Linked DNA regions of Homo sapiens. The protein of the gene in region 1 interacts with the protein of each later gene in a pairwise test. Each region holds a gene or a part of one and is shown in the gene's direction. Other genes may lie near its edges.

Region 1 (7,029 bases):
TATGTATGTACATACATCTGCAATATATACATATTTGTATTACACATTTATTAATGCAGGGATTGACAAACTATGGCCCAGGACCAAATCTAGCCCTGGCCTGATTTTGTACAGACACAAGCTAAAAATGGTTTTTATATTATTAAAAGGCTGTAAAAGAAAAAGGGGAAAAAAGATGAATAAGAAACAGAAAGCATATGTGGACTGCAAAACCTAAAATATTTGGCATCCGGCCCCTTATAGAAAAAGGTTGCCAGCCCCTGTATTGTCTCCCACTAGAACATAAACTCCTTGAGCTCAGGGACTTTGTTTTGGTCACTGTAAGATCCCCAGCACATAGAAGAGTGCCTGGTTCAAAGTAGATGCTAAGTAAATATTTTTAAAAGAATGAATGAATAAAGACAATGAGTTTTATTGTTTGTTTGTTTGTTTGTTAGCCCAGATCTCACTCTGTTGCCCAGGCTGGAGTGCAATGGTATGATCATGGCTCACTGCAAGCTCGACCACTCGGGCTCAAACAATCCTCCCACCTCAGCCTCCCATGTAGCTGAGACCACAGGTGTATGCTCAGCTAATTTTTTTTAATATTTGTAGAGACTGAGGTCTCACTATGTTGTCCAGGCTCATCTCTAACTCCTAGGCTCAAGCAATCTTCCTGCCTCAGCTTCCCAAAGTGCTGGATTATAGGCATGAGCCACTTCTCTCAGCCCAACACTGAGTCTTAGTGAGGTCAGGTGACTTGTCTAAGGTCACACAGGAAGCTGGCAGATGAACCAGGTTTCAAACCCAGGTCCACCTGATTCCACAGCTAGGCCCTGATGTGCAAGAGCTGCTTGAAGCAATGATTTGAACCTTCTTGTTTTCTACCAAAAGGCTTTCCTTTGTAGACTGTCTCTAACAGGCAAATTAGGTAAGCACCCTGTGGGACAGGGGATGAAAAAAGAAAGACATACAGTATGTTGCAGAAAACTTTTAAAAATTATATCATAACATATTTACATCTGATATCAACCATATTCAATGTACTTTCATATACATCATCTCTTAGTGTCACCACATATCTGTCTGTATATGGTAATGAGCGTAATCTGTAATTATGCTCATTACACACATTACAAAACAGAGTTTCAGAGAGGTTAGGGGAACTGGCTTTCACAAGAAATGAGTAGCAGAGACAGAATTGAATCCAGATTTATCACTTTTAGTGCAGAGCTTTCCCCTTTACCAAATTGGACCAACATATATCCCCACAGCTCTGCTGAAGGGTAAAAGTGCTGCCATGGATGTGGAGGAATTTTAATAAAATGGCAGTCACAGTTCAGTCACTTCTAAGAAACCAGGGGCTACTCCATTTCACTTAGAGGTCTGTGGCATACAAGAAAACCTCCTCAGTTATAAACGGCAATCTACCAATGGCCAGAGGCAGCAGCAAAGTAAGAACTTTGAAACTGAAGCAATGAGCAAGAGAGCTGTCAAGCTGACCACATCTTGGGCTTTTACTGGTGTGACAATAGTGCAGCATTTTTGAGCTGCCAGGCCCATGACCATCTTCAAGAAGGAAGCCAAGAAAACTGACAGTTCTCTTAGCTGACACGAATATCCACAGCTGTCACCTCCTGGACCAGCTGCTGAATCTAATCAGCCATCCTCTGAGGCAGCTGACTTTAGAGCCTTAGTGTATTTGGCTGAGAAACCATGTGTGTTACGTGGCTGCCAAGGGCCAGCCTTCTGCGTGATTGCCAGTGTCTCTATGTTTTTATAGAGGAGAGGTCACGATGCTGCCCCCTGGAGTTCATTTGAATCTGACACGCAGCTGTACACTGGCCAAGATACCAGCTCAGAATGCTTGCAACAGTCTAGTTTCAAATGTCTGTCTCTTTGTTGCTGTAAGTTCCTTATGCTGTGTCAGGCCATGTGTGCCCTACCCCCCGCCCAGAAAATGTAGCCTCTATAAACAGCAGCAGTTGAAGCTACTGTACTATATTTGGTCCATTTCTGCATCTCTTCACCCTCCTCACTATAATATGGCCCAACTCTTAGGAAACTGAAATTAAATCAAAGTGTCATTTTCAATGGTAGAATATGCAAGAATTTTAAGTACTAAATGACTATGATTATTAAATCAGTTTAATAATTATAATGTTTTCTTCAAATAATTTATATGATGACTTGGATATGAAAACCTGATGAACTACATAATAACTACAAATGTACCATTCCTTTCGGTACAACTTTAAACTTATGTCTCTGTATTTTAAAAATCTCTTTTATTTGGAAATAACATTAGTAATTGCAATGAAGAACATGGAGCAAAGGTCAAATGCTTTACCTAATATATTCCTTTGTCAAAAAAAGAAAACTTGAAAATCGTTCAAAGTCGGGCATTAGGTATCTTCCATATATTAAGTATCATGCTTAGTGTGATGCTAAGTGTGACATTATATTCTTAGAAAGTGTCTGGCTACTTACATGCATATTCCAAGGAAACTTTATATATGGGGAAGACATATTTGAGAACTCCGCATTTGTACTGTGTTAAGCAATAAAAAGTATACCTTTTTGTTGTCAGGCTTGAGAAAGAGATCCAAGATCTTGAAAAAGCTGAACTGCAAATCTCAACGAAGGAAGAGGCCATTTTAAAGAAACTAAAGTCAATTGAGCGGACAACAGAAGACATTATAAGAGTGAGCATTAACCAATTTTAAAACTGTAATTCTCTCTCAAAATGAATCCACAAATACTATATAATTTTTCAAAGCATATCCACATTTAGATTCTATTTTTTAAACTGTATTAATCATGGAGAATTCTTTTTTCTTACAGTCTGTGAAAGTGGAAAGAGAAGAAAGAGCAGAAGGTATGTTTTTGAATAACTTATTTTATGTTAAACTAAGTTTTTTTGGTAATTTGAAATTGTTCCCATTGTAAATATATTCTAAATGTATTTTGAATTCATATTAATTTTACAGAGTCAATTGAGGACATCTATGCTAATATCCCTGACCTTCCAAAGTCCTACATACCTTCTAGGTTAAGGAAGGAGATAAATGAAGAAAAAGAAGATGATGAACAAAATAGGAAAGGTATATGAGAAATCTGTGTTGAAGGGCATGTTCTTAATTTCAGATTTTACAGTGTCAAATATTCACAACTTGCTATGACATATTATTCTTCCAGGTTAAGCAATGGTTCACTTTACAAAGTTCTGTGAGTTATGTGAGTCACCGCATAGGTGAGGATAATGAGGGTATAATAATAGCATTTATTCCATGCATTTTATTCCCTAACAAACCAGACAGGGATAAGGAAGATAGAGACCCAAAGGAGACAAGAAGCTCTTAAAAGCATAGATTCCCTGGTCAAAAATATTTCTCCTGACATATTCCATCCAATAGAACCTCTTTGGGGGTTACAAAGATCTTTTTTGAAAATGAAAATATTCCTTTGGGAAGCTTAGGCCTTATTTACCTCCATGGGAAATTGAGTTACATAAAACTGATGCTTCAAAGCTTCTAGAAAAATGAAGGTTTGCATTAGAGCAGAGAGGAAAACTTTGAATTTTACAGTGGAAGGAAAAGCTACTCTTTATTTGCAGATGGTAGTCATTTATTCATTCAACAAATATTTAGAGAATAGATACTGTGTGCCAGGTTCAGTTAGGCACATAGTAGGTATTCACTAAATATATCATGGTAGGGAGTGCAATACAGAGAATAAAGCAGAGAAGCTGGACAGGGAGAGTGCAGATGAGGGGTGTTGCAGTTTTTCTTGGGTAGTCAAGGAAGGCCAAGAACCACCAGGCTATAGAGGAGGTAAGAAATACAAAATGGGTTCAGAAAGAAAGGTGGGAGGACACAACAAAAGCAAGCTGTAATTTTGCACAGAATTCTATTCGCTTTACCTTTCCTATTGAAATTCCAGCCATAGGGATCTTACTTAGGTCATGAAGCAAATCTCAGCTTCCCCAGTTCTCTCCAGTCCATTTGTCTCAGTGCAGCTGATATTGCTGTACTTTTTAGCCCTTCCTCTACTTGAAAATGGGAGTGAAAATGAAAAGAAACATAAGGCAGAAAGAGAAGTGTGTGATTGTAGCCTTCTCCCTCCCGTTTCCATCCCAGTTCTACATTTAAACAGCCTCTCCACTGTGAAAACTTTAGAACACACCTCTATAATTTCACCAGGCTGCTGGCCTGTACAACAAGGATGTAACTTTATAAAATATACTGTACTAGGCACTTTGCCCACTGTGATGCACAGTCCAACATATTCTTCTTGACTAAAGAAGAGATTGATTCTGCCCATTGAGAAATGCAAAAGAAAGTATATCCATCTTGCTGAATTTATTAATAGGAAAGAGGATATCTTTTTCGGTTCCCCATTGAAATTCTTTCCTATTTGGAACCATCAGCTTATCTTCTCTAATCAACTTCTCTTCTTCAACCCTTTCCATTTTTCAGTACAATTCCCTACACCATTACATAAAAACCCGTGTTATTCCAGTTGGTCATGATATCATTAATGAGTAAAATCAGAAATTTAAAAAATAGACAACATCTCACATACAAGAACATGAAGGGTCTACTTAATATAAAAATAAACACAGTGAAAGCAGGTTAGTTTACAAAAGAAAAGTTAACTAAATCAAAGATCAAATTTGTTTCTTAACAGCTTTATATGCCATGGAAATTAAAGTTGAAAAAGACTTGAAGACTGGAGAAAGTACAGTTCTGTCTTCAATACCTCTGCCATCAGATGACTTTAAAGGTACAGGAATAAAAGTTTATGATGATGGGCAAAAGTCAGTGTATGCAGTAAGTTCTAATCACAGTGCAGCATACAATGGCACCGATGGCCTGGCACCAGTTGAAGTAGAGGAACTTCTAAGACAAGCCTCAGAGAGAAACTCTAAATCCCCAACAGAGTATCATGAGCCTGTATATGCCAATCCCTTTTACAGGCCTACAACCCCACAGAGAGAAACGGTGACCCCTGGACCAAACTTTCAAGAAAGGATAAAGATTAAAACTAATGGACTGGGTATTGGTGTAAATGAATCCATACACAATATGGGCAATGGTCTTTCAGAGGAAAGGGGAAACAACTTCAATCACATCAGTCCCATTCCGCCAGTGCCTCATCCCCGATCAGTGATTCAACAAGCAGAAGAGAAGCTTCACACCCCGCAAAAAAGGCTAATGACTCCTTGGGAAGAATCGAATGTCATGCAGGACAAAGATGCACCCTCTCCAAAGCCAAGGCTGAGCCCCAGAGAGACAATATTTGGGAAATCTGAACACCAGAATTCTTCACCCACTTGTCAGGAGGACGAGGAAGATGTCAGATATAATATCGTTCATTCCCTGCCTCCAGACATAAATGATACAGAACCGGTGACAATGATTTTCATGGGGTATCAGCAGGCAGAAGACAGTGAAGAAGATAAGAAGTTTCTGACAGGATATGATGGGATCATCCATGCTGAGCTGGTTGTGATTGATGATGAGGAGGAGGAGGATGAAGGAGAAGCAGAGAAACCGTCCTACCACCCCATAGCTCCCCATAGTCAGGTGTACCAGCCAGCCAAACCAACACCACTTCCTAGAAAAAGATCAGAAGCTAGTCCTCATGAAAACACAAATCATAAATCCCCCCACAAAAATTCCATATCTCTGAAAGAGCAAGAAGAAAGCTTAGGCAGCCCTGTCCACCATTCCCCATTTGATGCTCAGACAACTGGAGATGGGACTGAGGATCCATCCTTAACAGGTAATAAAAATGACAAGGCATGCCACTGCTGTTCAGTCATGTGACCAGCTTCTCTTGTGCTAATGCAGTCTTGCTTTCAGGCTTCTCTGACCACCTCATAAACTAATACGCACTGAGATTTTTTTATTAATGCTGATAGAGATTATTATCACCACAGTAAAGTGATTAAGTCACTTCAAAAGATAAAGAAAGTAAAAATAAATCATTGCCTTATTTGATATTGTATTGAGGAACTTTAATAACTTGAATTTCATCTTCTATCATGGTATGGTGCTGCTTGTGAGTGTATTTGGGTCACTAATATGTTGGATCATCAATAACATATCTTTTTCCACTAGAATCTGATGACTACTTTATTTGTGCCTCACTGTGATTTAAACTTCTTATATAAGTTAACAAATTGCCTTAATTCTGCAAGAAAGTACAAGAAACAAATTTTATTTTCAGAGTATTTTATTACCTTGCTGTATCTTGTTTCTCTATATGTCTATAGTTTCATTAATTTTATTTTCCTAATTTTTCTACATTTTAAAATAGAATGTTAGTTTATTTTATGTTTTCTATAACCTTTAACTTTGCATAGTGTTCCCCAACTTAGCATATTTATCTTTTCTATTTTCTATATATTTGCATTTCTCATTCTTTGCAAAATTTTTATAGCTTTATAGCTAACCAGCTATTTTAGCATTGAGTGGAAAATAACTTTAACACTTTTTTTCTACAAAAGTGATAGCTTCTCAATTTTAGATTTCTTGTTATCACTTAAATACTATATTCTAGTTATCATTTATAAAGAATAAATAAGAACCTAACAAAATCAGTTATAATAGCTGTACTTACCTTGGCTAAAGATGTAAATCAAATTACCCTGACATACAATTTCTGTATGTTTGCTAGGGATAGTAATTTTAAATGTCTCTAATGGAAGGATTCTCATTAAAAAGCAATAAATATTAAGTACTGGCTAACTTCACAAGTCAAACTTGATAATTCTATGGCAGTGTGGTAGTACCTGCACAATTACCTACACAATTCAATAATGTTTCTTCCTCTACAACCCATAAGCCCAATATTAGGTAGCTAATAATACAGTAAAATGAACCTTCTCCCATTATTTTAAGTAGTTAAAGTAGGTATCCCAATGATAAATTTAATTACCTGAAGAATTTCTAAGCTTTTGGAAAGTATACACGTATACAACTTCCTCAATCAGAGTTGAGTGATATGTCTCACAATGGAAAGTTGCAGATACTAAGTTTCTTT
Region 2 (7,029 bases), on another chromosome or scaffold:
GCAGCTGGAGACAGTAACATCTACCGGAAACCCCCGATCTACAAACGGCATGGTATGGTCAGAGGTAGATAGGGCTTGGCCACACAAGGAGAGGGGGGAGGTTAACCATCTATGCAGATGGCCCTGCACAGGCCACCAGGAGCCACAAAACACAAGGCTGCATCTTGGTCCTTCTTGTTGACTGCCCCATCACCCAGGGTGACATTAGGGCAGAGTTTGGTATCATTTCAAAAGAACAAAGTCCTCATGTCCCCTCAGTTCTTTCCCACCACCTTTGCAATCTCCCCCTTACCTGCTCTCTGTCATCCTAAGTTCCATAATTGGTAAAACCTTTGTAAAACGCACATGCCCCTGGGAGAGTCACACTCCAAGGCATTAATACTTGAAATGTTCATTAGAATAACAGGGGATGCATACAGATTCCTGGGCCCCACCCCAGGCTTACTGAATTCGAATTCTGTATGTGTCACGGTTTCTCCAAGTGATTCTGATACTCAGCCCAACTTGGGAACCCCTGCTGTAAGTTGTTCTCAGTCACAGTCTCCTGAGAGTGGATGGAGACTTGCAGAGGAGATGTAGATGAGTAAGGTTGCAGAGGGTGACTTCCTTCTTTCATTCATTCATTGATTTAGTGTTTCTTAAAGAATGATCTATGGACCATCTGCACCTGAGAGACATTTAAAAGGCAGATTCCCTGGCCCCTTCCTTGCCCCAGACTCCCTTAATTATAAATATTGAGAGTGTGAACTAAGAATCTGCACTATAACTGGCTTTGTCCATGATTCCTCCCTGCACTTAGTATGAGAACCACCAAGTCATTCATCACTGACACCACCTGTTCACTTTTGCAAAAAGTACTTACTAAGCCTCGATTGAAGGAGCACATCCCTTCCATTGAAGCTGCAGAGGAGCAGCTGCCACCCTGTGCACCCACACTTGCTTAAGGGTCTAGCTGGATAACAAAAGGAGGCCCAGAATCGGTGGAGCTTGGAGATGAGCGAAGCAGTCCTGCACCAGGTTCTGAACTAATTAGCTGGTGGAGGGGACAATACGAGTTTAAACAGCGGCTCTGGGTGCCTAAGATTCTACATTTTATACAGACATCCTTGGTTCCAGAGGGGGCTGAGCAGGGGGGTCCGAGGTGAGTCTGTGAGCATGTGCAAGTCTGTACCAGCTTGTGAAGGACATGCCATGTCCCCTGAGTACTCATAGAAAGACACCAACATGACAAAGGTAGTTTGGCTTTATACCTAGAAAAGGCCCCCAGGTCACAAGCTTCTCAGGACTTTGTGGGATTTTCCAGGTGGGCCCTGAGGGGTGGCACTAAAGCAGACTCAAGAGGAGTCTGGGGTGGAGGTGGGTTGCTTGGAAAAGAGGGCGGAGGAAAAAGCTAAATGCAGTCAGCCAGGAGGGGCTGCCCAGGACCCAAGTCAAAGAGAAGAATTTGAAAGCTTTGGAAGCAAGTGCTGTTGTGGGGGCTGCATAGCCCAGGGCTGGCTGAAGCTGATCCACCACGCTCTGCCACTCTGGCTCCACAGAGCACAGAGCTTGTCCCTAAAGCTTCCTGTAGCTGACCATGAGAAATGGTCATGCAGCCACACACACTTCCCCAGCCCCTCTCTCTGCTCTACCAGCCTGTCACCCACGTTTGGGCCACGAGAAGTCACTGCTCTGTAAGTAGTTGTGACTGCAGTGGGTCTTTTTGGTCACCCCTGTCCTGGGCTTACTTCAGGTGGAAGCTTGAAGCTGGATGGCAGCTGAGCCAGCAGACCGATTCTGACACTTACAGATGAGGAAACTAAGGCAGAGATGGTAGGACCTGCCCAGTGTTACAGCTGAGTAAAGTGGCAGAGCTGGGACCAGAACCCAGGTTTGCTGACTCCCTGTCTAGCACTCCTTCCTTCAGGCTATGTAGTCCCTGAGCAGAATGTGGCATCTCAGGTTGTGAGAAATGATGGAGTTCAAATTTATAACAAGGAAGGCTTCTAAAGGGCTAGGAAGGCTTCTAAAGGGCTGGGGCTCACCTGGGACCTGTCCAGTCTTATTTGAGGAGCCACACCCTTAGAGGTCATTCTGGAACAGACCTGGGAATCCATGGAATGTGCTGGAAAGAGCCCTGGGCTGGGATCTGGTCCAGTTCTGGTGCTCACATGCTATGTGGTCTTAAGCAAGCCCCTTCCCCTCTCTGGTGCTCCAATTACTAAATGCAAAATGAGGGTTTGGCCCCAGTGCTTTTCCAGCTCCGATGCTCCATGGCCCAGTTCTAACAGAGAGCCCTGATCTTGAAGTGGACTCACTCCCCTGGGCTGGAGCCTGGTAAAGATAGGAAAAGGGTACACAGTCCCATCCCGGTCACTCTGCCTTCCTGAAGTGCTCTCCTTGGGTCCTCTGCAGGTGATTTGTCTACAGCAACCAAGAGCAAAACAAGTGAAGACATCAGCCAGACCTCCAAGTACAGTCCCATCTACTCGCCAGACCCCTACTATGCTTCGGAGTCTGAGTACTGGACCTACCATGGGTCCCCCAAAGGTAGTACCCCCATAGGAGCCTGGGTCCAGGGCCCTAACACCTGTGCCAAGGACACGGGTGTTCAGAACAGTTGCCCACTCCTTTATACAATCATTCTGAATAAGAGTGCTTAGAGGGTTTATAACTAAGGGTGTTTATTCATTCAACAAATATGTACTAAACACTGGCCATGGACCCTAGCAATACACTGGGGAGCAAAACAGACCAGGTCCCTGCCCTTGTGGAGAAGACATAGGCCCCAGCCATGAGAGGGAGGTGATGCGCAGAAGGTAGGAGAGCTGATGGCAGGGGCCTGCTGTCCAGCCTGAAGATGACAAAAGTTTCTCAATGCAGCCACTCAGCTGCCATCAGGAGGGTGGCAAGGATGTAACACAGCAGAGAGTGTAGAAATACTTCTGCAAAGACCCAGGATGTGAGAGAGGATTCCACTGGAGGAAAGAAAAGGCTGTCCACTTAACCTTGAACTCAGAGAGGAAGAGAAGCAGTAGAGGTGAGGGAGGAGGTCCCCCAGGGTTTTGAGGGTTGAGGTAAGGATTTTGGTTGTTATCCTAAACAGTGAGTGGCATGATCACATTGAAAGTAGTGGCATGATCACATTTGTGCTTTTGAGAGACCACTTTGGCTGTAGGGTAAAAAATGGTTGGGAGGATGGAGAAAGAGAGGATGTGGGGAGGTGGAAGGCTCCTGGTAAGGGGTCTCAGTGGTCCTCAGATACCACCTCACCCAATCATACAACCCAAGCTGTTCCTTTCAAGTATGGGGGGAAATTTTTCCCCCCATCAAGATCCACTCTGATTCAATGTCTTTACTAATTCAATGTCCATTCTGAGCAAAGCTTCACAGAAGCTCAGAGATGACTCTTTGGTGCTGGGCACAGTGGCTCACGCCCGTAATCCCAGCACTTTGGGAGGCCAAGTTGGGAAGATCACTTGAGCCCAGGAAATTGAGACCAGCCTGGACAACATAGCACTTCTTCTCTACAAAAAAATTTTTAAAAATTATCTGGGCATGATAGTGTATGCCTGTAGTCCCAGCTACATGCAAGCCTGAGGCAGGAGGATCCCTTGAGCCTGGGGACTTGAGGCTGCAACAAGCCATGATCACACCACTGCACTCTAGCCTGGGTGAGAGTGAGCCCCTGTCTCAAAAATTTAAAAATTTAATAAAAGGATGACTCGTTCGCTACTCTCAAAGAAGTCTTCATTTAGAAAAGAAGGTAAGACACAAATACGACTATAACCAAGTGGGCAGTGATCCATCCCCACAGGAGAGGAGTGTTCAGAGACCACAAAGGCAGCAGAGACCACTTTCAGCTGATGTGGGGCTTAGCTTAAACGAGACTGTTTCCATTGAAAAATAAGATTAAAAAGAAAGAAAAGTGGCTTTTCTTTTTTAAAAAAAAAATGCCTTAAGCCAGGCTGAGTGGGGTGCACATGCCGGAGCTGATCTTTTCTGTCTTTTGACAGTGCCCCGAGCCAGAAGGTTCTCGTCTGGAGGAGAGGAGGATGATTTTGACCGCAGCATGCACAAGGTGGGCAGAGACCACAGCACTGAATATGATGCTTAGAGCGTATATCACTGAGGGTCTTTTCATTTACAAGCAACAAAAAACAGATTCAAGCCCACTTATGATAGAAAAAAGAAAAGCATAGCTTTGCATAACTGAAAAATCAAATGGTGGAATTAGCTTAAAGTATGACTAGATCCAACTGCTCAAAAAAATGTCATAGGAAATTTGTCTCTTCACTTCTGGGGCTTGCCTCTGCATTGGCTTCATGCTCAGGCAAGCTATTTTCACATAATGGTAAGCAGGTGCTTGCAACCCTTGTTCATTGCTGGTGAAACCCTTGTTTCAGCCCCTGTGGAAAACAATTTGGTGGTTCCTCAAAAATTAAACATAAAATTACCACATGATCCAGCAATTCCACTCCTAGATATATACCCAGAAGAATTAAAAACAGGACTTAAACAAATACATATATACTCATATCCGTGGCAGCACTATTCACGAAAGCTAAAATATGGAAATAATCCAAATGTCCATCAGCTCATGAATAGGACAAAATATGGTATGTCCATACAGTGGAATATTATTCAGCCATGAAAAGAAATGAAGTAATGATACATGCCACAATGTGGATGAACCTTGAAAACATTATGCTTAAGAAAAGAAGCCAGACACAAGGTCGCATATTGTGTGATTCCATTTCCATGAAATATGCAGAATAGGCAAATCCATAGAGACAGAACATAGATTGCTGGTTCCCAGGGGCACGGGGAGAGGGGAATGGGGAGTGAGTGCTTCATGGATATGGGATCTCCTTTGGGGGAAATAATGGTATTTTGAAACGAGATAGAGGTGGTAGTTCCACAACATTGTGAATGCACTGAATGCCACTGAATCATTTCCTTTAAAATGGTTAATTTGAAGTTAAGTAATTTTCACCTCAGTTAAAAAGAAAAAGGTGGCTATCTGCCCATTGTTGAATCAATCACTGTGCCAAGACAATGGGATCCTGTCACTGGCCAGGCTTGCTTTTTTGTGCCCACCACCAGACCCCCACCCAGACCACAGGACAACTTGTGGAAGACAAGATGAGATTGCAACAGGAAACATGGGTGCCACAAGGTGGGAGGGACGCTGGGAAGGCAAACATGAGAGCAGGCTGCTATGGAGGATGTGATCCTCAGCCTTGCCCAAGCCCGTTCCATCTCAGTGTCCTTTGTTTTCCTTCTAACTTTATCTTGCTCTTCCCCGACCCTCAGCTCCAAAGTGGAATTGGCCGGCTGATTCTGAAGGAAGAAATGAAGGCCCGGTCGAGCTCCTATGCAGATCCCTGGACCCCTCCCCGGAGCTCCACCAGCAGCCGGGAAGCCCTGCACACAGCTGGCTATGAGATGTCCCTCAATGGCTGTAAGCATGGCTCTGGAAGCCCAACGGGGCGGGGACACCTTTCTCTGTGACTAGCTGGCAGTGTCAGCTGTTTGCTCTGAGCCAGGCTCCCTTGAGGCACAGCCCATGCATCCTCTCTCTTCTTCCTCACAGCAGCCCTGTGGTGGGTGACTTGCCCAAGATCACTCAATTTATCAGTAATGGAGCTTACTTCATCAGCTTCCTTGCCTGCTTTTATAAATTAGGTTCTATTGGAATGTAGCCAGCCCCGTCTCAATCCCCTGGGCTAACAAAAGAATCAGAAGAGGCTGGCCACAAAGGTTAGCCCCAAACCCTGCAATGCCCCTTCTGGGAGCTTCATTGAGGTCTAGAATACAGATTTGGAAAGGCGCTCTATGGGGCACTATGTAAGACCATGCTGCCCTGAGCAGTCACTCCCATTGCTTTGGGGCATCTGAAGCTCTGACTTCCAGTCAGATTCAGTATAAAGAAAAATGGCTTGGCTGGGCGCAGTGGCTCATGACTGTAATCCCAGCACTTTAGGAGGCCGAGGCGGGCAGATCATGAGGTCAGGAGATCAAGACCATCCTGGCTAACATGGTGAAACCCGGTCTTTACTAAAAATACAGAAAATTAGCTGGGCATGGTGGTGGGCACCTGTAGTCCCAACTACTCGGGAGGCTGAGGCAGGAGAATGGCGTGAGGCAGGAGGCGGAGCTTGCAGTGAGCCGAGATTGCACCACTGCACTCCAGCCTGGGCAACAGAGCGAGACTCTCTCTCAAAAAAAAAAAAAAAAAAAAAGAACGATGTCTTATAATCATCGGAATGGCTCAAAGATGTAAGGGATGGCCTCCTGAGGTAGTGAGTCTACCATGATTTGAACTTATACAAGCAGGGGCTTTATTCAAATACTTCTTGAAAATCTCATTGCAAGCTCCTCCTATTCCTGGACACACACACACACACACACACACACACACACACACACACTCTGTCTGCCTCCTCCTTTTCTTACTCCTGTGAGATGCAGTCCTGCCAGGAAATCTCATCTCGGATCAATACATTATGGATAATAAAATGCACCATTTATTACACTTCTATGTGCCAGGCATTTGTAGGAATGTTACACTCCTGGTAGAGCTGCAATGTAGAGGGATTATTATCACCCACTTTATAGATGAGAGAACTGAGGTTAAGCCACTTGCTCCAAGTCAAAAGCCAGTAAGTGACTGAGCCAGGATCAGACCCAAGTTGGAGTGGCCCCAAGGCCATGAGCTCTTCCCTCTTCCCCATACTACACCTTGACTCTCAGTGAGATTGAAGATGTTGGTGTTGGCGGCAATATGATAAAGCCAGTCTTATGGAGTGTTATAGATGCGTCAGGCACTATGCTAAGTATCTTACTGTATTGTGTCACATATTCTTCACAATAATCCTACAAAGGAGGCACTATCACTCCCCATTTTGCAGATGAGAAAACCAAAGCGTGATTAATTAGATTGTCTGAAGTTAGAAATCTACTAATGGCAGAGCCAGGATGAACTGCTGAGCCTGTTTTCCTGCCTGACCACTGAGGGCCACTGTTTCCAAGCCCTGGCTGCGGGGT

The links. Proteins that work in one complex are often made in the same cells at the same time.
Region 2: the proteins of PALMD (region 1) and ABLIM3 interact in binary tests that used the Homo sapiens proteins (3 or more experiments, as listed by UniProt).

What each region holds. Positions count from the first base shown.
Region 1 is NC_000001.11:99,684,107-99,691,135, forward strand, and holds part of PALMD (palmdelphin), read left to right. Parts: intron 1-2,569; coding exon 2,570-2,684; intron 2,685-2,823; coding exon 2,824-2,857; intron 2,858-2,969; coding exon 2,970-3,083; intron 3,084-4,668; coding exon 4,669-5,766; intron 5,767-7,029.
Region 2 is NC_000005.10:149,242,487-149,249,515, forward strand, and holds part of ABLIM3 (actin-binding LIM protein 3), read left to right. Parts: intron 1-4; coding exon 5-52; intron 53-2,394; coding exon 2,395-2,529; intron 2,530-3,995; coding exon 3,996-4,060; intron 4,061-5,295; coding exon 5,296-5,443; intron 5,444-7,029. UniProt on the Homo sapiens protein: May act as scaffold protein. May stimulate ABRA activity and ABRA-dependent SRF transcriptional activity.